Linked DNA regions of Homo sapiens: regions 1 and 3 are each linked to region 2. The links come from fine-mapping of genetic effects on gene expression. A gene starts in region 2. Each other region holds a variant in brackets. All regions are shown on one strand. Distances are from middle to middle. Region 1 has its middle 58 kb from the start of VANGL2. Region 2 holds the start of SLAMF6 (SLAM family member 6). Region 3 overlaps SLAMF6 (SLAM family member 6).

Evidence for each region. PIP is the estimated chance that this variant, and not a neighbour inherited with it, causes the effect. A credible set is the group of variants that fine-mapping cannot tell apart.
Region 1: its variant is the best candidate, but not a certain one, in a credible set for the expression of SLAMF6 in whole blood (INTERVAL, PIP 0.83).
Region 3: its variant is the best candidate, but not a certain one, in a credible set for the expression of SLAMF6 in lymphoblastoid cells (GTEx, PIP 0.61).

Annotation. Positions count from the first base shown.
Region 1 is chr1:160,454,667-160,462,592 of GRCh38, forward strand. No RefSeq gene overlaps it. Among named protein-coding and RNA genes, the nearest start is that of VANGL2, 58 kb to the left of the region's middle. The variant A/G (reference allele first, on the strand shown) is at 3,732.
Region 2 is chr1:160,519,211-160,527,136 of GRCh38, forward strand. It overlaps SLAMF6 (SLAM family member 6), which reads right to left and starts at 4,045. Exons shown (of 8, transcript NM_001184714.2): 1 at 3,934-4,045. The coding sequence starts at 3,982. RefSeq lists an enhancer at 3,830-3,879.
Region 3 is chr1:160,495,176-160,503,101 of GRCh38, forward strand. It overlaps SLAMF6 (SLAM family member 6), which reads right to left. Exons shown (of 8, transcript NM_001184714.2): 2 at 886-1,218. Among named protein-coding and RNA genes, the nearest start is that of SLAMF6, 24 kb to the right of the region's middle. The variant C/T (reference allele first, on the strand shown) is at 3,898.

The sequences.
Region 1 (7,926 bases), 65 kb before region 2:
TTCAGTCACACTTGTAGAATCACAGGTGGTTAGACTTGGAAGGGTTTTTGGAGTCATTTAGCTAACATCCCAATATGAAGAAACTGAGGTCCAGAGGGAAGAATGAGTCTCAAACTTGCGCAACTGTGTGGAGCTGGCCTAGCCCTCAATTTCCCAATAGTCAACTTCAGTATGCTTTCAACTACTATACGCCCTGATTCGTACTATCAGTTTTGCCTGACTCTGAGTTCTAGCACAAATTCTTCCCCTTTGAAATTCCTCTGCCACATCCCTGATTGCTGATGATCAAAACAATACTTGATATTTATCACTAGCACTGGAAAAAAGGACAATTTCTGAACTATCATCTCATTAAGTTATGATTCCTGACTCTTTGCATCATGAAACCATAACTCATTCACGACTCTTAACTCATCATTACTGGATGGGTGTTCATTCTGTTATAGGCAAAATGCCCAAGAGAAAATATACAATCCAGAATTAAGTCATTTTGAAAGGCAAGAACTGGAAAGACCATTAGAAATAACTTGAGGTGGTTTTTAGGCATCCTTAGGCATCTCCAAAGTTCCCACTGGGAGCACCTCAGGAGAGGGGTAAGGAAAAGGCTCAGTGGTAGCTGTGCCACCTCCTCTGATAAAACCATTTGTGATCACTTTCATTCTTCCTGAAAGGCTTCCTGTAACATTTCTTACAGCGCTGATATGCTTGTGGTGAATTCTTTCAGCTTCTGTATGTCTACAAAAGTCTTTATTTTACCTTTTTTTTTAAGGTTATTTTCACTGAGTATAGGATTTTATGTTGACAGGTGTGTGTGTGTGTGTGTGTGTTTCCCTCCTTGCTTTTAAGATGTTGCTCCAGTGTCTTCTGGCTTGCATTGAGAAGTCTCTTTTTTTTTTTTTTTCCCCCAAGACTGAGTTTCGCTCTTGTCGCCCAGGCTGGAGTGCAATGGCCTGATCTCAGCTCACTGCAACCTCCCCCTCCCAGGCTCAAGTGATTCTCCAGCCTAATCCTCCCTAGTAGCTGACATTACAAGTGCCCCCCACCATGCCCGGCTAATTTTTGTATTTTTAGTAGAGATGGAGTTTCGCCATGTTGGCCAGGCTGGCCTTGAACTCCTGACCTCAGGTGATCCACCCACCTTGGCCTTCCAAAGTGCTGGGATTACAGGCGTGAGCCACCGCGCCCAGCCAAGAAGTCTGCTTTCATTTTTACCTTTCTTCCTTTGTACATATTGTGTCTTTTTTCTCTGTCTGCTTTTAAATTTTTGTTTTTATTAATGGTTTTAAGTAATTTGATTATGATGTTCCTTGGCATACTTCTCTTAAATTTCTTATGATTGGGATTTAGTGAGCTTCTTGGTTATAAGAATTTATAGTTTCACCAAATTTGGAATATTCGGTGACTATTTCAATTTTTTCCTCCCTTCCTTCTACTTAAAAAATTAAAAGATATTTTAAATTGAAGCAGCCATGAAAGTACATGTCAGGCCTTTTATTTTGGGCAGTTGATTGGTGACTCCAGCAGCTGTTCTCTGACTCTACCTTGTATTTCCACTGAAGCCAGACTTTTAATGGGCTGCTCCTAACCAATGATTAAATGTGGTACAAATGTGAATGCAGACCTTTTTCTGCAAGATGCAGACTCTTCTGATGGGTGACTTTGACTTGAGGACTCCCCATCAGCCTGGCTGACACTTTTATTTTTTTGAGTCAGAGTCTCACTCTGTCACCCATGCTGGAGTGCAGTGGCATGATCAGGACTCACTGCAACCTTGACGTTCCAGGCTGAAGCGATCCTCCCACCTCAGCACTGCCAGCCCCCACTCACCCTGCTGCACCGCCCCTTGAGTAGCTGGCACTATAGGCATGTGCCACCATGCCCTGCTATTTTTTTTGAATTTTAGTAGAGATGAGGTCTCACTGTGTAACCCAGGCTGGTCTGGAACTCCTGAGCTCAAGTGATCCTTCTGTCTTGGCCTCCCAAAGTGCTGTGATTACTTACAGGCGTGAGCCACTGCACCTGGCCTGAAACTATCTTAGAACAGTGCAGAAGTCTGAGACTATTCTTACTTAATCCTTCTTCCTTTCCTCTCTTTTTCCCAGGGTTCGCATCTACATGGTCTAAGGAGTTTCCCTATCATCTCCATCTCTATCTTCTTTTTCCTTCACAGCCATCTCCCCCAATAAATCTTTGGCATCTGCTTCCTGGAGGATCTGAGCTAACACGTTTATTATTACCATTATTTTATTTTTATTTCCCATCAGTATAAGATTTCACTTAAATAAAAGGTGGCTCACACCTGTAATCCAGCACTTTGGGAGGCCGAGGCGGGTGGATCACCAGAGGTCAGGAGTTTGAGACCAGCCTGGCCAACATGGTGAAACTCCATCTCTACAAAAAAATACAAAAATTAGCCAGGTGTGGTGGCACGCGCCTGTAATCTCAGCTACTCGGGAGGCTGAGGCAGGAGAATTGCTGGAACCCAGGAGGTAGAGGTTGTGATGAGCTGAGATCACACCATTGCACTCCAGCCTGGGCTGATAACAGCAAGACTCTGTCTCAAAATAATAATAATAATAAATAAAATAAAATAAAAAGAAAAGATTCCATATCTAAAAGTGTTTGAGAACTGGTGATCTATTTTTTACCATGTTATAGTTGAGGGACTGAAGCTTGGAGATCTCTTTTGGATACTAAGTTTCCAAACTGAAATCAACCTAAATTATGACAATAGTCAAGTCATAAAGGCTTGTTCTTTTTTTCTGGGGTCTTGAGGCCCTGGACCAAAATTCGGCACCAATGTCCTAATCATGACATTACTACTAACTTCTTTATAGTACATGACAAGCTACTTACCTTCTCTAATCTTATTAAAGGGCTTGGGTTAGCTTATCTATACAGACTTTTTAACTCTAAAATGTAACTTTATAGGTGAGAAAACTTAAATAATTTACCTGACCAACTATCCAAAAACTTGTTAGAGAAAGACTGTATGGATTGGATTTTTTTCTCTAATAGCCAATACAATGCTCAAGACTTTTTCTTGTATTGAACTGTCTTTGGGAAAATATCCTGATAAACCACTCATGGCAAAAGATGTGGCCATGGACTTCAGGAACCAATAGAGTTTTTAAAAAATGGCTGAATTGTTCTGCATAAGCAGAGGAAGGAAGGAATTTGGTTTTGATCCTAGGAGGAAACAGGAAAGGGAAGGAGGAAGGAGCAAAGCCTTAAGAGGGTATAAAACCAGAGAGGTACATGGAGTGAAAATCCCTGGGGATAGAATGGAAAAAGGGGCTTTTAAGGTTAGAGATACCCAACGTTTAATTGGAAACTTTTTGCTGTATTATTGAGGTTTCTGGTGTTTGAAAGTAACATAAACCCAGTTCCAAGAAGCTTATACAAAAAAGGGATCTTAGTGGCTCACAACATTTGGAAAGATTCCAGGATTGTTTGCTGCATCCAAGGAAGAATTATAGAAACTAAAGCGGCAGACACCGTACAGAAACTTGAATTAACGCTGCCAAATCTCTTTCTCTCCCTCACTCCATCCTTTCCTTTCCTATCTTTCTCATCTCTGCTTAACTCTGTTTCCCTTTCCATGTTGACCTCACATTTTCCTATGACAGAAAGGACTTTGCCATGTGAAAGAGACAGAAAGGAGACATGGTTGCAGCCAGACTCAGCTCAGCAACCATAGAGAGCTTTTTTCTCTAAGTATCCATATAACA[A/G]TTCCAAGGATGTGTTATAATTGTCCCGGCTTGGATTACATGTCCATCCCTTGTCAATGCCAGGGAAATAGAGCACCATGATTATCCCACACAGGTCATGTACCTCTGTTTTTGCCTGGGGCTAAGGGTCTTTAATGAGAAGAAAGGAGGTGGAAATTCTTGATGGGAAGATAAAATGATAGTTGCCACTTTGTGTTGCTTCAGTGTAAACCAATGCCTCTTTCAAAAACATTCAGTATAACCAGAATGTTCCATCCATGCAGCAGCCTTGTGTACATCGGGCTGTTTAGGTGAAAATTATGGCAAGGATGCTGGGCCTTGCCTAGGTTTAAGGTGGTAACAAATAAGGAAACACCCACAAGGGGTCAAATGACCTGTAATCTGAACTAATTCAACTGAATCAGGAATTTGGAGCCAGAGGTGACCATGGGAGCCATGTCAGGAAAGGATGTGGAATAGAGGCTTAAGTGCAGCTTATATGCCTTTGTGACCAGGAATGGAGCAGATGTACAATTGCTGGCTAGTTTTCCCATGGGGTATATTTTAGGTTCTTCAAAGATTCCTTTGCTGGGAACTTTTAACTGTAATTCCTGTGAGGTAGGTGGTGCTTCTTATGTGACTGGCTGGTTTTCACTTCAACTTCCGGGACTGAGCTTCCCAGAGTTGGTTATGGTTATCACTCTATAATGAGCTTTCAAACAGACTCCTGGCCAACTCTGACTTGGAAAGTCTATGTGTGGTCTTGGGAAACACTTCTGCATTGTTTTCCTACCATCTGTAGATGGTCAGTCCTCATTCTTTCTCTGCTGTGTGGCCTCAGGCACATCTATCAACAGCCTGTCTTCACATTCCTTATATATGCCAAACTCCAGAGGACAAATGTCACTCTGAGTGATCTTCCACTTATGGTCCTGTTGAAGCTCATTCAGCTGGCTTGAAGTGAAGGGAAAGTCTCCCTTCCCCATGGAAGGGCGCCCCCCCTTCCCCATAGTAGCACAGCATTCCAATGACTCTTTATGGAGAAATCCTCTCCCCTCCTTCTCTTCAACTTCGACTCCTGATATGGGTGATGTGCCAAGAGCCACAAAGCCAGCTTTTGGTCATCTCCTTTGTCAATCCCTGAAAAAGTGGGCAAGCTTTGTAATGTGGGGAGAGCTTAGCATCTATTGTTTTGTTTTGTTTTGAAAGCAACCACACCAAGGCTAACTGATTTTTGGAGCCTGGGCTCAAACTAAACAAGAAAGAATCTCATTTTAAATCCTTTTACACATGCATTATCTCACGTAATCGTTTAGGTATATTGGTCCCATTTTACACATGGGAAAACAGGCTTAGAGAGGTCAAGTGATTTGTTCAAGGTCTCATGGTAAGTGGCAGAAAAATCTAAACCCAGATTTTTTCTGACTCCAAAGTTAGTGCTCGTTCCACTTTGAAACTGTTAATTGATTACCAGAGTCCTGAGTCTTTTGGTTAATGCTCTGAGTTGGCATGGGGAGTCTTGTTCAAGCACTGGTACCTCTGACTCACGACTGTGTTCTTAGTCCATTCACCTCTGCACCTAAATTTTCCTTTATGTAAGTGTGTCACATAAGAATAATAATAATACTTTTTTTCCCTGCTTCCCAACAGAACTGTGTTGATAATGAGGTTTGAAGGTGGGTGGGTAGGAAAAATTTGTTAGAACTAAAAATGTTTAAACACCCACTACTATATGCCAGGCAGGCTCTGTGATAGGCTTTTTACAGACACTATTTAATTTAATCAAAGTTGACTAAAAAATATTTAGCAACTGGTCCAGCGCAGTTGCTGGCCAATCACAATGATGCTGGCTACTGACTGTCAAACTGTGCCAGGGAGACTGCTGGAAGAGGGGGTGCAAAGCACACAGGGCCAGCCAGCCAGCCAGCAAGGAGTGGCCAGCGTTACTCTCAGAGCGCCCCACGACAAAGTTCCTGCTCTTTTTAGTTATTTGAACACTTCAGAAGAAAGCAGCCACACCAAGGATAGCTATTATTATTCTCAGAGGTAGTTACTCAGAAGTTATTTGGATAAGGGTAAACAAGGCTAAGAAGTTTCATTTTTAGGGTTCCGCTTTCAAAGGAACACCGTTTTGCTCCTTTCTCTTATTTGTCTCTTTCTCATGCTGCTGGTGGACCAATGTCAAAATCTTGTGCTCAAAACCTTACTTCCTGTCCTTGTAGTAGCAATTCCCAATGGAGAAACATTTAAAGCACTGAAAGCAACACTCAAAAGAAGGAAAGAAAGGATAGAAAGGGAGGCGTGGGGGAAGATCATGAGGAAGGAAGGAAAAAAGAAGGAAAGAGAAATAAAATCAAAGAAGGAAGAAACAGTTCAGACCAGTTTGCAGATTTAGAAGTCATTTCTGGCTCCCTAACAGTTTTCATCCTCAGAGTGCTTTCAGGCCACCAACATGTTCACGCAATACTGGGCCGTGATCATCATGACCCAGGAGGGGAGGTAAGAGTGAAAGGTGGAGTCGACATTTACTGTGGAAAAACCAAGGACAAACAGGAAGAATTAAAACAGGAAATGACTCATGAACAATGGAAGGGGTGCTCCCCTCACTTTTATTATCCCCCTCAGAGAGAAAGAGTTTCCACTAGCTTTGTTTTTGGGAGTTTTTCTTCAACAACAACTCTAACTCTAACCCTCCTAACCCCCTTCTTTGAGGGAGACTCAGTTTTTCCAAAGTTGCAACACACTTCTCTACCCTCTTCTTTCACCCCAGCTTCTCATGAGGCATCTTAACACTGAATATTGTGTTCAATATATGCTTTTGAAGAAAACAGAGGAAAACGCAAAGATTAGTAAATGGATTATTTGAAAAAAACCATGGCAGCTGTTTCAAATTTTAGGGATGTTGGTAAAACTCATCTGAGAAGTAGAAGGCTATTGGGTTTAGACAAACTCCTTAACGGGCCACTTTGTTCAGATCTAGGCCCCATAGCATGTTCTGAAAAGAGATATACTGTGAGTAAAAATAGTTTAAATTGGTCTGTGTACTGGAGTCTGGAGTGACAGGTGTGTTTCAGTTTTTTCCTGGAAGAGTGGGGGAGTTTTGTGCTGGTAAACGTTTAACAATCACCTCTCCAATAACAACAACAACCAAACAATACAAAGTACTCTAAAACTCTGATTTGTAGCACTTGTCCATTTCTGTGGTAGCATTTCCATCAAGTCACTGAGTTAGGAAAAGATGTGCACCATTATATAGTGTTTCCTCTATGTGTGTGCAGTAGATGTAAATCCTCTCAAGAGCATAGAATAGTAAAGGATAGTAAAATAATTAAGAAGTGATGCATTTGAGTACTTACTACCCTTTTAAAAATATATAATTTATTTAAATATCAGCATTTAGTTACTGACGGGATGCTTAACAGCTAACTTGCAGAAATCCTGAAATTTTAGCTATTGACTCATGTGACTAGATTTGGGGGTCTGGAACCTGGAGAAAAGGAGAGTGAGACCCAGTAGGCTCCCGGGAAGGGTACATGCTGGGGCCTAAGGAAAATAGTACCCAAAGAGAAAGTTCCTGTGCAGGGATGACCAAAGGAATTTGAGGACAGTGATTTAAATAACTTTTATTTATTTATTTGTTTGTTTATTTTTGAGATGGAATCTCACTCTGTTACCCAGGCTGGAGTGCAATGGCGCTATCTCGGATCTCTGCAGCCTCCACCTCCTGGATTCAAGTGATTCTCCTGCCTCAGCCTCCCGAGTAGCTGGGATTACAGGCACGTGCTACAATGCCTAGCTAATTTTTGTATTTTTAGTAGAGATGGGGGTCTCACCATGTTGGCCAGGCTGGTCTTGAACTCCTGACCTCAGGAGATCCACCTGCCTTGGCGTCCCAATGTGCTGGGATTACAGGCGTGAGCCACCACGCCCAGCCAATAACTCAATTTTAATCTGTTTCCTAGTCTGTCCTCTGCTGTAGTCTCCTGCCCTTATCCTCAAATCGTCAGGCTTGTGTTGGTGTTCTTTTGATGGCTGGGTCCATGCTTCTGATGAAGCAGCATGGAGAGAAACATGGTTCTAGAAAGTGAGGTGATAACAGGGACTGGAAATTATATGGGAGCAGCAACATGGATGAGAGGCTACCAGCAGAATATAAGCACTGCTCCCTTCCCACCCATCCAGCAATCCTCACAGATGGAGGTCTCCAACTGGGTGT
Region 2 (7,926 bases):
TCAAAATCATTTGTCATTGGGAAAATGTAAATCAAAACCACAATAATATACCACTTCACACCTATTAGGATGGTGATAATAATCTTTTTAAAAAGGAAAAAAACAAGTGTTGATGAGGATGTGGAGAAATTATAACTCTTGTACACAGCTAGTGGAAATGTAAAATGGTACAGCCATTGTGGAAAACAGTTTGGCAATTTCCCAAAAAGTTAAGCATAGAATTATATGATCTGACAAATCCATTCCTAGGTATATACCCAGATAAAAACAGGTAGTCAAATACTTGTACACATAGCAGCACTATTCGCAAGAGCCAAAAGGCAAAAACAACCCAGGTGTCCACTGATAGATAAATGGATAAATAAAATGTAGTATATACAGAATACAAAATACTATTCAGCCAAAAAGGAATGAAGTACTGATACATGGTTCAGCATAGGTGAACCTGGAAAACATGATGCTAAGTGAAAGAAGTCAGACACGAAAGGTCATATATTGTGTGATTTCATTTATATGAAATTATCCAGAATAGGTAAACCCACAGAGACAGAAAGCAGATCGGTATTTGCCAGGGGCTGGGGGGGAGGGGAGAATGGGAAATGACTGCTTAGTGGGTACAGGGTTTCCTTTTGGGGTGATGAAAATGTTTTAGAATAATAGAAGTGGTGGTTTCACAAAATGTACAAAATGTCACTTTAAAATTATTACATCCTGTTACAAGAATTTCACCTTAATAAAAAATGTCTGAGTGTGAACAGAGAAACAATCAAAGCTGAATCTGGGTTAAGGGACCAAAAACAGAGGCATGAACACCTGGAGGTCACATTGGAGATTGCAGATTCTGAGAGGTGGAAAAACACGTGTCTGAGGATAATGAAAAAATATAAAACAGCTCTCTGCCTGTTGAGCACAATAAACATTTGAAAGATGTGGACGGTTGGTAAAAAGTAGATAACACTGCTCGGGGGCCATCAGGTCACAATCTCTTCACAGAAGAGCATTGCACATTTTGACTCAACCTCAGAATCAGCCCTCATGTGTTTGCTTTACTTACATTTCCAACCACTGCTCTCTCCTGGACCTCAGAATACCTATATCTGCTTCCTGCAAACACACTCAAAGTTAGTTTCTATTTCTTCCTCCCTACAATCCCAGTATGACTGAAGTCCATTGGAATTTAGAACCTTGCTGCTTAGTGTGGTCCATGGACAGGCAGCATTGGTGTCACCTGGGAGCCTCTTAGAAATGCAGAATCTCAGTCCCTATTCCCCAATCAGCATTTTAATAAGATTCCCCCAAGTAATTTATATGCACATTTAAGTTTGACAAATTTCCAACTTTCCATCTATAAAAATCAAAATGAAGAAACAAACGAGATTTATTTTCTCTAGGAAGTCATGATGCTTGATTTTATTTACAATTATTGTTTTGTTCTGTTAGTTTTGCCACCCAGGGCTTGAGTTAAAGGAAATGGGATTATTTTTCAATATGGTTTGTCTTTTCCACTAAATTTTCTAAAAGGAGTCAGGATAGTGCCCAACCCACTTCAAAGAATGTAGGCTGGCATGAGTCATTGTTTTTCATGGTTGTTTCAAAGATTAATTTCATTTGCCCCACATTTTTGCAACAGTGGTCTTCTTTCCCTTCCTAAATCACTCCAGGCTCTTTCCTGCATCACGGCTTTTCACACATGATTCCCTCTGCCCTAAAATCTTCTTCATTTGACTTTTCCTGTTTAACTTTTCACACCCTTTAAATATCAGATGAGATGTTACTTTTCCAGGAAGTCCTTTCTTCATCACTCCGTCCAAAGCAGGTCCCCGTGTTTTTCTCTATGAAGGTGCCCTGCTTATTTTTTTTGCTGGCCTCACATTTTCTAATTATGTACACATTTGTGTGAATGTATGACTGTGTGTAAGCTAAGTAGCATAGTGAAGTGGCTATGAGCACAGACTCCGGAGCCAAGCTTCCTGATTTCCAATTCTAGCAGCCACTTCTCTCCTCCTGGGTCTCAGAACACCTGCATCTGCCTCCTGTAAACTCATTCAAATGTGTTTCTCTTTCTATACCCATTTCCCCCATAAATGTGGGGCAGTGAGCAAGTTACTTTAGTGTTCTGTGCCTTCTTTCCCCATCTGTGAAGTGGAGATTGGAGCACTGTATATTTCATAGGGTCATTATAAGAAGTATTCATGGAAATAGGGAGAAGAAGAGGAGTTTTAACACAAGGACATTCAGAATATTTTATTCTAGAGGTGGAAATAATTTTGCAGGGTGGTAAAAATGAAGCAAAAACTCAAGATTCTGCTCCTAGATCAGGAAGTGGCTCTTGAATGAAGGAAAGAATTCTCTCTCTTTCTGCATTTTATATATATTTCCCAAAGTTCTGTTCTCATTCCAGTTTTCTCCTCAGCTTAACATATCTCTATGCCATTGATTTTTAAGTCTCTAGCCTCAGCTCTACCCCTAGTCCTAAGTTCCCAGGATCCTCCACGTAACTTCCTCATGTATAGCACACTGACATCCTAAAATCAGTAGGTCCAAAATTGAACTCACCTTCCTCCTGTGGCTGCTCTCCACCTTCCAATTTTGTCACTTTCTTTGGCTATCCTGTCTGAAATTTCACTGCCGTCTTTACCATATTTCATCTCTCCCTTTCCTTCTTGATTTATTTCTTCCTACCCAATACACTATTTTACTTGTTTATCTTTTTTTACAGTTTGTCTCCTGCTAAAATGTTAACTCCATGAGGGCAGGAATTTTTGCTTGCTTTGTTCATGATGTATTCATGCAAACTAGAAGAGTGCCAAGCATTCAGTAGGTGCTCAATGAATATTTATTCCTTTCTCATTCCAATTACCAATTACTCTACTTAACTCCATATTGATGGGATCTCTTGCTTCAGTCTCTTCTTTCTCTTATGCTGCTGCCACACTTGTTGAACTGTTATTTTTTCTCATAACTATTACAAGAGCTTGTCGCATGCTGGCTAATGAAATTTGGGCAAATTATTTAAATTAAGTTCACCTCAGTTCTTCATTTTAAAATGGAGATATTAATAGTATAAATTCATAGAATTCTCATGAGACTCATAACGTGTGTACAGCACCTGGCACAATACTTGAAATACAATAAGTGCTCAGTGAATGCTTCCTACTTTTATCTGCTACCCTGGGCTAGCTCTGGACTAGATTTCCATTGGTCTCCTGGACTATCTCTGCCTGAATGCTACACTTTGTCTCCCGTGGACCACTTGTAGTTCCCCAAATGTGATATGAATCTTCATCTTCTCCATATAATGGACAGCAGGAAACAAGAAGCCAGCTGGATCAGTTCATTCTTTTCTCACTGCCATATATAATGCATTGCTGGACTAGCTAGCCCTAATTTGCACTAAAGGAGGGGAGAGATGGAAACCTTTTTTTTTGCAATGAGCAAAAGGTGAGAGGGTTATTTTTGGTGTGTTTGGTTGGGCCCAGAAAATTTGGCTCAACTGAATAATAGGTTTTTAATAATTTAGATGAGGATAGTGAGGTTCAGGAAGGATAAGTAACCTCCCTGAGGTTCACAGTACGATAGTAGATACATTGGTATGAGGGCCCATTTTCTTGGTCTTGGTACTCTTTATAACACAAGATGCTGGTCATAAACCACAAACAGTCTTGTCTTCAAAAGCTTATTTCCTCTGCCCCAGCAAATAACTTTCTTACATGCAGACACAATTGAAATTGTTCACCGACAACCATCTCAGGCTTATCGCATCCAAAGTTGAGAGGAGGTAGTAGTATATCAGGTAACACTGCCAGCGTCCCCTTTCCCGCCCCAATCCCTTGGCAGAGAGCCAGACAACTGTATACAGACGATTTAGGTTGAGCAAGCTGCACAAAACCAGGGAGTCACTCAGTGACTACACCGATCTGGATTGACATTTACCTGGGCCAAAGCAGAAGACAAACAGGAGCGATTGGAACAGCCACAACATGCTTTCCGCGGTGAAGACTGGTGCTTGAGACCTTGAGGCAGTCAATGTTTTTGCCCTTCTGTCATAAACTGAAAATACTTCTGAGACTTCCCCTTCCTCTTAGAGGCGTGGTGACAACTTCTTCCCCTGCACTAAAAATCCTAATTTGTAACTGTGTTAATTTTTTGTTTACTTTTTTCTGAGCTAAGTGCACAAATTTTTTTTTTTTTTGGAAAAGAAGATAAAGTCCTTTATTGCATCTTTCATAAACTTATATGTAAAAGTCTGTAAGGAATTTCCTAAAATCTACTAGAACAAATAAATGAGTTCAGCAAGGTGAAAAGATACAAAATCAAAATATAAAATTCAATTGCAATTGTATATACTAGCTATGAGTAATCCAAAAATAAAATTCAAAAAACAATTCCACTCTAATTACATTAGAAAAAAATATTTAAGTATAAAGCTAAGAAAAAGCCAAAAGAAAACTGATTTTTTAAAATTATACTTTAAGTTCTAGGGTACATGTGCACAATGTGCAGGTTTGTTACATATGTATACATATGCCATGTTGGTGTGCTGCACCTATTAACTTGTCATCTACATTAGATATTTCTCCTAATGCTATCCCTCCCCTTGCCCCCCACCCCGTGACATACCCCAGTGTATGATGTTCCCCTACCTGTGTCCATGTGTTCTCATTGTTCAGTTCCCACCTATGAGTGAGAACATGCGTTGTTTGGCTTTCTGTTCTTGTGTTAGTTTGCTGAGAATGATGGTTTCCAGCTTCATCCATGTCCCTGCAAAGGACATGAACTCATCCTTTTTTATGGCTGCATGGTATTCCATGGTATATATATGCCACATTTTCTTTATCCAGTGTATCATTGATGGGCATTTGGGTTGGTTCCAAGTCTTTGCTATTGTGAACAGTGCTGCAATAAACATAAGTGTGCATGTGTCTTTATAGCAGCATGATTTATAATCCTTTGGGTATATAACCAGTAATGGGATTGCTGGGTCAAATGGTATTTCTAGTTCTAGATCCTTGAGGAATCGCCACACTGTATTCCACAATGGTTGAACTAGTTTACACTCCCACCAACAGTGTGAAAACATTCCCATTTCTCTACATCCTCTCCAGCATCTGTTGTTTCCTGATTTTTTAATGATTGCCATTCTAACTGGCATGAGATGGTATCTCATTGTAGTTTTGATTTGCATTTCTCTAATGACCAGTGATGATGAGCTTTTTTCATATGTTTCTTGGCCGCATAAATGTCTTCTTTTGAGAAGTGTCTTCATATCCTTTGCCCACTTTTTGTTGGGGTTTTTTTTTTTTTCTTGTAAATTTGTTTGAGTTCTTTGTAGATTCTGGATATTAGCCTTTTGTCAAATGGATAGACTGCAAAAATTTTCTCCCATTCTGTAGGTTCCCTGTTCACTCTGATGATAGTTTCTTTTGCTGTGCAGAAGCTCTTTAGTTTAATTAGGTCCCATTTGTCAATTTTGGCTTTTGTTGCCATTGATTTTGATGTTTTAGTATTGAAGTCTTTGCCCATGCCTTTGTCCTGAATGGTATTGCCTAGGTTTTCTTCTGGGGTTTTTGTGGTTTTAGGTCTAACATTTAAGTCTTTAATCCATCTTGAGTTAATTTTTGTGTAAGGTATAAGGAAGGGAACCAGTTTCAGTTTTCTGCATAATTGCTAGCCAGTTTTCCCAACACCATTTATTAAATAGGGAATCCTTTCCCCATTGCTTGTTTTTGTTAGGTTTGTCAAAGATCAGATGGTTGTAGATGTGTGATGTTATTTCTGAGGCCTCTGTTCTGCTCCATTGGTCTATATATCTGTTTTGGTACCAGTACCATGCTGTTTTGGTTACTGCAGCCTTGTAGTATAGTTTGAAGTCAGTTAGCGTGCTGCCTCCAGCTTTGTTCTTTTGGCTTACAATTGTCTTGGCTATATGGGCTCGTTTTTGGTTCTGTATGAAATTTAAAGTAGTTTTTTCTAATTCTGTGAAGAAAGTCAATAGTAGTTTGATGGAAATAGCATTGAACCTATAAATTACTTTGGGCAATATGGCCATTTTCATGATATTGATTCTTCCTATCTATGAGCATGGAATGGTTTTCCATTTGTTTGTGTACTTTCTTATTTCCTTGAGCAGTGGTTTGTAGTTCTCCTTGAAGAGGTCCTTCACATCCCTTGTAAGTTGTATTCCTAGGTATTATATTCTCTTTGTAGCAATTGTGAATGGCAGTTCACTCACGACTTGGCTCTCTGTTTGTCTATTTTTGGTGTATAGGAATGCTTGTGATTTTTGCACATTGATTTTGTATCCTGAGACTGCTGAAGCTGCTTATCAGCTTAAGGAGATTTTGGGCTAAGACAATGGAGTTTTCTAAATATACAATCATGTCATCTGCAAACAGAGACTATTTGATTTCCTCTCTTCTTATCTGAATACCCTTTACTTCTTTCTCTTGCCTGATTGCCCTGGTCAGAACTTTCAATATTATGTTGAATAGGAGTGGTGAGAGAGGGCATCCTTGTGCTAGTTTTCAAAGGGAATGCTTCCAGATTTTGCCCATTCAGTATGATAATGGCTGTGGGTTTGTCATAAATAGCTCTCATTATTTTGAGATACGTTCCATCAGTACCTAGTTTATTAAGAGTTTTTAACATGAAGGGATGTTGAATTTTATCAAAGGCCTTTTCTACATCTATTGAGATAATCATGTGGTTTTTGTCATTGGTTCTGTTTATGTGATGAATTACATTTATTGATTTGCATATGTTGAACCAACCTTGCATACCAGGGATGAAGCCAACTTGATTGTGGTGGATAAGCTTTTTTTTTTTTTTTTTTTGAGGTGGAGTCTTGCTCTGTCGCCCAGGCCAGAGTGCAGTGGAACAATCTTGGCTCACTGCAAGTTCCGCCTCCTGGGTTCATGCCATTCTCCTGCCTCAGCCTCCTGAGTAGCTGGGACTGCAGGTGCCCACTACCACGCCCAGCTAATTTTTCTGTATTTTTAGTACAGACAGAGTTTCACTGTGTTAGCCAGGATGGTCTCGATCTCCTGACCTCATGATCCACCCACCTCAGCCTCCCAAAGTGCTGGGATTACAGGCACGAGCCACCATGCCCGGCTGGTGGATAAGCTTTTTGATATGCTGCTGGATTCAGTTTGCCTGTATTTTATTGAGGATTTTTACATCAATGTTCATCAGGGATATTGGCCTAAAATTTTCTTTTTTTGTTGTGTCTCTGCCAGGTTTTGGTATCAGGATGATGCTGGCCTCATAAAATGAGTTAGGGAGGAGTCCCTCTTTTTTTATTGTTTGGAATAGTTTCAGAAGGAATGGCACCAGCTCCTCTTTGTATCTCTGGTAGAATTCGGCTGTGAATCCATCTAGTCCTGGGCTTTTTTTGGTTGGTAGGTTATTAATTACTGCCTCAAATTCAGAACTTTTTATTGGTCTATTTAGGGATTTGATTTCCTTCTGGTTTAATCTTGGGAGGGTGTATGTGTCCAGGAATTTATCCATTTCTTCTAGATTTTCTAGTATTTGTGTAGAGGTGTTTGTAGTATTCTCTGACGGTAGATTGTATTTCTGTGGGATCAGTGGCAATGTCCCCTTTATCATTTTTTATTGTGTCTATTTGATTCTTCTCTTTTCTTCATTAGTCTGACTAGCTATCTATTTTGTTGATCTTTGCAAAAAACAGCTCTTGGATTCATTGATTTTTGAAGGGTATTTAGTGTCTCTATCTCCTTCAGTTCTGCTCTGATTTTAATTATTTCTTGTCTTCTGTTAGCTTTTGAATTTGTTTGCTCTTGCTTCTCTAGTTCTTTTAAGTGTGATGTCAGATGTGAATTTTAGATTTCTCTTGCTTTCCCTTGTGAGCATTTAGTGCTATGTTTCCCACTACATACTGCTTTGGCTGTGTCCCAGAGATTC
Region 3 (7,926 bases), 24 kb before region 2:
GTGAATTTTAGACACTACAGGCCCTCAAGTGGATAAAAATTACAGAATTTCCGTGGCCTTTAATGTTTTCTGGTCTGATTGCCAATTTAATGCTTGAATCTCCTGCTAAGTGATTATTCTAAAGCCATTAATGGCATCTCTGAATATCACTGATTGCTAGAGAGGTATTTTTCTGATATTGACTCATAAGAAATCTCATTATAGTTTCCATAATTTTATGTTGATAACATTTTCATTCTTTTTAATCTTGGGAAGGCAGATTGTTGACTGGTGATTAATATGAGCCATCGGGGGAAAATATTGTTAAAAATTAAATAACCTTGACAGAAAGGATGTTTCTCATTATCAGCCTATCTTTGCAGATAACTTTCTAGGTAGACCACTGTTCTGTACACTGACCACTCTACTGGGTCAGACTAGCCTTTGTGAAAAGGGAGGTGTCGTGGCAGGTAGTTATGTGGGAAGTGCTACCATTACTATCTCTGTGACTTGTAGGCAAATCACTGTGACTGAGGCTGTGCCTCAAGGGTATAAGGTCTGTACCTACCTCATGGAGTCTTTGTGAGAATTACATGGCAAATACATGTAGTGCACAAGGCAACACTATCATAAATATTTGACTTCCATTACTTCTGCTACATTTCTGGTTGAAGAAGACCATTTTATCGGAGTGAAGTAATTCTGGGCTGGGACACAAGACTTAGGCTCTGTCTTCAGCTCTGTCATTAACTGGCTTTGCAGTGTCATTGTGTTGACACTGACTCAATGACTCCAAATGCCATATTCTTTACCACTAGGCGACAGTGCACATTTGAAGTCACATAGGATTGGAATACATGTATATTTTTCAGTCCATATGGAATTAAACCCCATATTTTGACTTACTTAATATCCTCAGAGTGTAACTGGACAGCTTTGCAGAGGTCTTTGTGGATATCTGGGCTCTGTAAGAGCCTGTGTCTTCCATCTTCAGGTTGCTGAGTTGCAGGGAGTAGGACTGGGTGAAGTTCAGTCGCTTTCCCTGTTTCGGATTAGTCACGTGGATTTCTGGACTTTTGGTTTCATGGGGTACTATGAAGGCAAGAGATGTTTCATTGAAAAGCCAAGTGATGAAGTTGACCTTCTCTCCTGCAGGAAACTCCAGGGGAAGAGTTACTGACTCCCCCAGAATCCCGTTCACCATCAATGGGGTTAAGCTGCTTTGTGAAACTACATTCCCTGTAAACACAGAAGGAAAGGTTTTAAAAATGTTCCTGACCATCTCCCTGCCAAGTCCTGCACCCTTTCACCTAACGCTGCCAGTCTGTTAGAGCTCTCTGATACCAAAACTCAGAGATATGACAGAGTAGGAAAGGGTAGGAGATGTTTCTAAATGAATAATCACAGTCCCAGAGCTTCACCTCCAGCAAAATGTCAGCCACTCTTGGTTAGTAGGCAGCTAGTCTAGATGAAACCGGCCCAGTCCACGCTGGGTCCTACACTGGCTGGTCACTCCTAGGTCATAACTATACTTTGTGATCCTAGCCTCTGAAGTCCTTGGACATTAGGTTGAGGGGGACAGGAAACTATAGACTCCAAAAACTGCAAGTCTTTGCTAATAAAGCATAATTAAAGCCTGATATTTACTGATTACTTACTGTGTGTCCAACATAGTAGGCTTGTGCAACTTAGAAGGCTGGTAACAGGGACTAATATCAGGGATTTATAGGATAGTCAGTTCTTCTTATATATTATTTCATTGACGCTGACTACAGTCTGTGAGGCAGGCAGGATGGATATTATTACTTCCATTTATAGATAAAGGAACTGAGCTACAGAAAAGTTAACTAATTTTCCCAGGGTTGCACAGCTAAAGAATAGCAGAGTCAGGATTCAAACCCAGGTCTTCTGACTCCAGTGACTTTGTGCTGTCTTCATGATACCAGAAGATTTTTTTTTAATTCTCTCAGAAAGATTATAGTTTAGTTATTGAGGAGACAAAATGGATACATATAGAAATAATAAATATAATTTCAAAGTAACACATGATGGCCACATTCTTGTGAACTTATTCAGAACTATCAATGTTTAAGCAAAAACGGTGAAATGGTCACAATGATTCTTAAAGAAGATGCTTCCTTAGCATCCTTTCCCAAATTCTTAGCAATTATTACACTATTTTGTAGTTTTGTTCACCTGTTTGTCTAACTGACCACGCCTTAATTAGCCTTGCATGTCAGTACTCAGCACCATGTCTGACACATAGTAGAGTCTGTGGAAATGTTCTAGTGGGTCAATGAATGAATAACTATAACAATTACCTCAACCTTCTCAGGATCTCTTGCTTCTTTTTCTTAAAAATTTCAACTTTTATTTTAGATATGGGGGTACATGTGCAGATTTGTTACATGGGTATATCACACCCAGATAGTGGACATAATAACTAATAGGTAGTTATTCAACCCATTACCTGTTCCCTTCCTTCCCCCTCTAGTAGTCCACAGCGTCTATTAATCCCATATTTATGTCCATGTGTGCTCAGTGTTTAGCTCCCACTTATAAGTGAGAGCATGTAGTATTTGGTTTTCTGTTCCTGTGTTGGTGTGCTAGGATTATGGCCTCCAGCTCCACCCGTGTTACTGCAAAAGACATGATTTAATTCTTTTTTATGGCTGGTTAGTATTCCATGGTGTATATATACCAAATTTTCTTTATCCAATCCATCATTGATTGGAACCTAGGTTGATTCTGTGTCTTTGCTATTATGAATAGCATAGTATGAACATACAAGTGCATGTGTCTTTTTGGTATAATGATCTATTTTCCTTTGGCTATATACCCAGTAATGGGATTGCTGGGTTGAATGGTAGCTCAGTTTTAAGTTTTTTGAAAAATCTCCAAACTGCTTTCCACAGTGAAAATTTATATTTCCCAATAACAGTGTATAACTGTTTCCTTTTCTCTGCAACCTCACCAAGTGGGACCTAGCACCTGTTTTTTTTTTATTTTTTGACTTTTAATAATAGACATTCTGAAAGAATGAAGGGTCCAGTTTCAATCTTCTGCATATGGCTATACAAAAATACAAAAAAGTGTATTAGTGTATTCTGAATTTTCTGTTCTCTTCCAGCTGTCATTCTGACAGAATGGCTATTATTAAAAAGTCAAAAAAGTGTTATTTGTCCATTTTCACACTGCTGATAAAGACATACTCAAGACTAGTAATTTATAAAGGAAAGATGTTTAATTGACTCACAGTTCCCCATGGCTGGGGAGGCCATGGCACTCACAAGCATGGTGGAAGGTGAAGGAGGAGCAAAGTCACGTCTTACATGGTGGCAGGCAAAGAGAACATGTGCAGGGGAACTCCCCTTTATAAAACCATCAGAACTCATGAGACTTATTCACTATCATGAGAATAGCACAGGAAAGACCTACCCCCAGATTCAATTACCTCCTACCAGGTCCCTCCCATGACATGTGGGAATAATGGGAGCTCTACAGTTCAAGATGAGATTTGGGTGGGGACACAATCAAACCATATCAAAAACCAAACCAGCATCTATTGTGTTCTTTTTTTTGACTTTTTAATAATAGCCATTCTGACTGGTGTGAGATGGTATTTCATTGTGGTTTTGATTTGGATTTCTCTGATGATTACTGATGCTGAGCATTTTTTCATGTTTGCTGAGTGCTTGTATATCTTCATTTAAGAAGTGCCTGTTCATGTCCTTTGCCCATTTTTTAATGGGGTTATTCGTCTTTTTGCTTATTGGTTTAAGCTCCTTATAGATTCTGGATATTAGACCTTATGTTGGGTACATAGTTTGCAAATATTTTCTCTCATTCTGTAAGATGTCTGTTTACGGTAATGATAGTTTCTTTTGCTGTGCAGAAGCTCTATAGTTTACTTAGGTT[C/T]CACTTGTCAATTTTCGTTTTTGTTGCAATTGCTTTTGGGGACCTAGCCAAAAATTCTTTGCCAAGGCCAGTGTCAAGAAGGGTATTTCCTATTTTTTTCTAGGATTTTTATAGCTTGAGGTTTTACATTTAAATATTTGATCCATCTTGAGTTAATTTTCGTATATGGTTAAAGGTAAGGGTCCAGTTTCAATCTTCTGCATATGGCTAGCCAGTTATCCAGCACCATTTATTGAACAGGGAGTCCTTTCCCCATTGCTCGCTTTTGTTGGCCTTGTCAAAAATCAGATGGTTGTAAGGGTGTGGCTTTATTTCTGAGTTTTTTGTTCTCTTCCAGTTGTCTATGTGTCTGTTTGTGTAACGGTACCATGCTGTTTTGGTTACTATAGTCTTATGGTATGGTTCAAAGTCAGATAGTGTGATGTCTCTGGATTTTTTGTTTTTGCTTAGAATTGCTTTGACTATTTGGGCTCTTTTTTTGGTTCCATATGAATTTTAGAATGGTTTTTCTAATTCTGTGAAGAATGACATTGGTAGTTTGATAGGAATAGCACTGAATCTAGAAATTGCTTTGTGTGGTATGGCCATTTTAACGATGTTGATTCTTCCAATCCATGAGCATGGAAAGTTGTCATTTCTGAGGGTTTCTTATTTCTTATAGGAGGAGCTGAATAGGGAAGGAAATGTCTCTTGGAGTCCTAGTGCTCAGCTCCTGGGTGAGCTTGCACTTCCTCTCTCTTTCATGAATTGTCATATGGGTTCCAGGCACATGAACATTGCTGTCATCAACATCTTTCCCATCAGCATTTTAACACACTGTTATTTGTCATCTTTATTCCTCTTTCCTCTGAATCACATGGGTGAATACCACAAGCAACATTTTGAGCAGAATGTCCAGATACCAGAGAATACAAATATATGATTCTATTTATTTAAAGTTGATAAACAGACAAATCTATGCTGTCAGAAGTCAAGAGAGTGGTTACCTTTGAGGAGGGAGAGGTGGTGAATAGGAGGGAGTATAAAGGAAGGATCCTGGAATACTGATAATGTCCTATCTCTAGATCTGTATTTGGCTACACAGATTTGTTCATTTTATGATAATTCATTGAGCTGACATTTAAGATTCGTATAGTTTTTCTCTTTGTATTTCAGTTTAAAAAGTTAAAACAGTAACAAAAGCAGAGCAAAACAAAATCATGTCTATGGTCTATAAGGACCAAAATGATCTGGCCATTTCTCTTTCTTTGACCTAATTCCTATATTCTCCCCCTTGTTCACTTTGCTCCAGCCCCCTTGGCTATTCCTTGAGCAGGCCAGGGCTTTTGCATTTGCAATCCTTTCTGTCTGGAATGTACTTTCTCCAAGTATCCATGCAGCTCACTCTTTTGCCTCCATAAAGTCATTAATGCAAACATTCCTGCTCAGAGAATTTAAAGAAGTGTGACCACTCTTTTTGCACCATCAGCCCCCATCCACCCTTGCACATCCAGCTGCCTTTGGATTTACCATCTAGTACTTACCATCTAGTATACTTTATAATTTAAATATTTGTTTTTGTTTATTTTCTCACCTCTCCACTAGAATGTAATCTCCATGGAGACAAAGATTTTTGTCTGTTTTGTCTACTATTGTGAACATTCTTGAACAGCACCTGGCACATAGTAAGCATCCCATGAATATTTACTGAGTGAATGGACATATCTCCATCCCTTCTCTTGGAGGTTTTCTGTCTAGAATGTTAAAGCTCAGTTCCTTTTGGTAGGGAGTCTGGGCTTACTCAGTGGCCTAAGGACTCACCAGGAGCTGTTCTTCCCTTGCCTGGAACGCTTGTTTAAGTTCCATTGATTTTATAGATTGAAATAATTAGTTTATGTAACAAGATTTTATCTATGGCTATTTATGCTGCTTACAAGAAGAAAGTCAAGGCTAAGGCAGAGTGGTAGCCTGTCTAGGCATTAAAGGAGTGCCCCAAAACAGAGCCAATCTGCAAAGACAAGCACAGAAATTTATTTATTTGTTTGTTTGTTTATTCATTCTGGTGTTCAAATATTCTAATATTTGCTAACTTCCATGCTAATTCAATTAGTAAAACCTTAGGAACCATGGCATATTTATTAGGTCTGTTTTATGTACCAGTTTCTAGACTGGAAACTGGGAATATAAGATACTGTCAGTCCTCTGGGTCCATCATCTGATAGAGGAGCCTGACAGGTAAATGAGTAGTTAGTTCTGATGTGGTGGGTTGGGCATTGAGCTAGTGTAAGGCTTGCCTCTGCATTGCCCTCGTATCACTATTGCAGTTATACATGCAATTGCAAGCAGTTCTTTCTCTTTGTTATAATTACAAGATTATTTTCTTTTCTTTTCCATAATCTTGAGGTCAGGGATTCTGATTATTATTTCTATATTCCTAGAACTTAGCACACAATTTCTAGCTCAATAAATGTTGAATTGTTAGAGATATGTGCTCCATGGGAGCAAAAATTTAGAGAATCATGAACTGGGAAGAGTTGGGAGTTGTCAGGGAACAGTTCACAGGAGATGACACTGTAGCAAAGTCTTGAATAAAAGCTATGAGTTCTCCATTACTTAATTATTTGTAATTCTTCCAATAATGCCTTGCTTTTTTTTTTTTTTTGCACTGCTTTTCCCTCTGCTTAAAATGCCTTTCTTCATCTTTCCTACATGGTAAGCTCCTATTTATCCTTCAAGGATGAGCTAAAATATCTGTTTGCCTCTTATATTTATGGGGGTTTTGCATTGGTACATGGGGAAGGGGAGAAAGGAGTTTGTGGTGAAGCAAAGGGAGAAGGAGCACAGGATGGATGAGATGGTAGGAATAGTTCCCCACAGACCCAAAACCAAACCAAAGCAAAACTAGATTTGAGACAATATGCTTAGGGACAGTGAAGGTCAGATGCTACTGAAAATGTTTAAAAGACCCTGCATGAGACTTTGGACAGGAGCAGAGCTGCTTCAGGGCCAAGGTGTTGTGGTGTGGCCCAGAGGGCACATGGAGGTCCTTTTCTCTGCTCTGCCAGGAATCAACACTGATGCTTTGGGAGCATCCGGGACCAGCACCCTTGGCATGGACATTGATGTTCTTGGAATAAGCAGGGCATCTAAATGGCTCTGCTGGCATCCTGTGTGGGGGACTAGAACCAGAAAAGGAGATTAAGAATGGGAAAGATGCCTCATGTTGGCTACAACTCGTAGGCTGCTTTGGGGACTCATGGGAAGCTTTCCTTTGAGACTCTCATAAGTCACTGGGGAACTCCTTGCAACATGAAGGTGATGCTGAGGTCTTGCCCATCCACTGGTGAGGATGTCAAGACAGCAGACATTTGGGGTACATTTGTTTACAAGTTTCATCTACTGTATGATGTGTTTTGGGGAACTCAAATAATATCTTAGTCAGCATTGTATTTCCCCATAACCTGGTCCAGGGAACTCAGTGAATGTTAAGTAGATTGGAATTAGAATAGAGAAGTTTTTAAGGGTTACCTGATTAGTGGAGGGTTAGTTTGGAAGGTATTAAAAAACATGAAGTATTTTTGAAAATTGGCAAAGTATAAAGAGAGCAGTGTCTTAGGAAAGAGAGGAGAGAGGTAGAACTAAGCAGATTCTGAAAAAGAGAGAAAAGTCAAGGAACTTTGGGTTTCTAACCTGAGGGACTAGCTTAGGCCCATCTATAGCTAACAGGAATATAGCAAGCTGTGTTAGCTCCACAGGAGGCAAATGCAGTATGAAAGAGAGTAGGGGCTGATTTCTCAAGAGAATTTAAAGAGAAGGGAGGAGAAACATAGTCAGGATATTGAGAAGGTAGGACAAATGGAAGTTACTCTTTAGGTAACAGAGTCCTGAGCAAATTTGGAGCAAAGGGAAGCAGCTGGGAGAAAAAGAAAAAACTTAAGATATGGTGAAAGGGAGTATTCAAAACGGTGTCATTTCTGAGGAGGAAGCCAGGGTGGGCTTAGGAGCATAAGTGAAGAGGTTAGTCTTGGGTAGACGTGGTTCTCCTTTTCT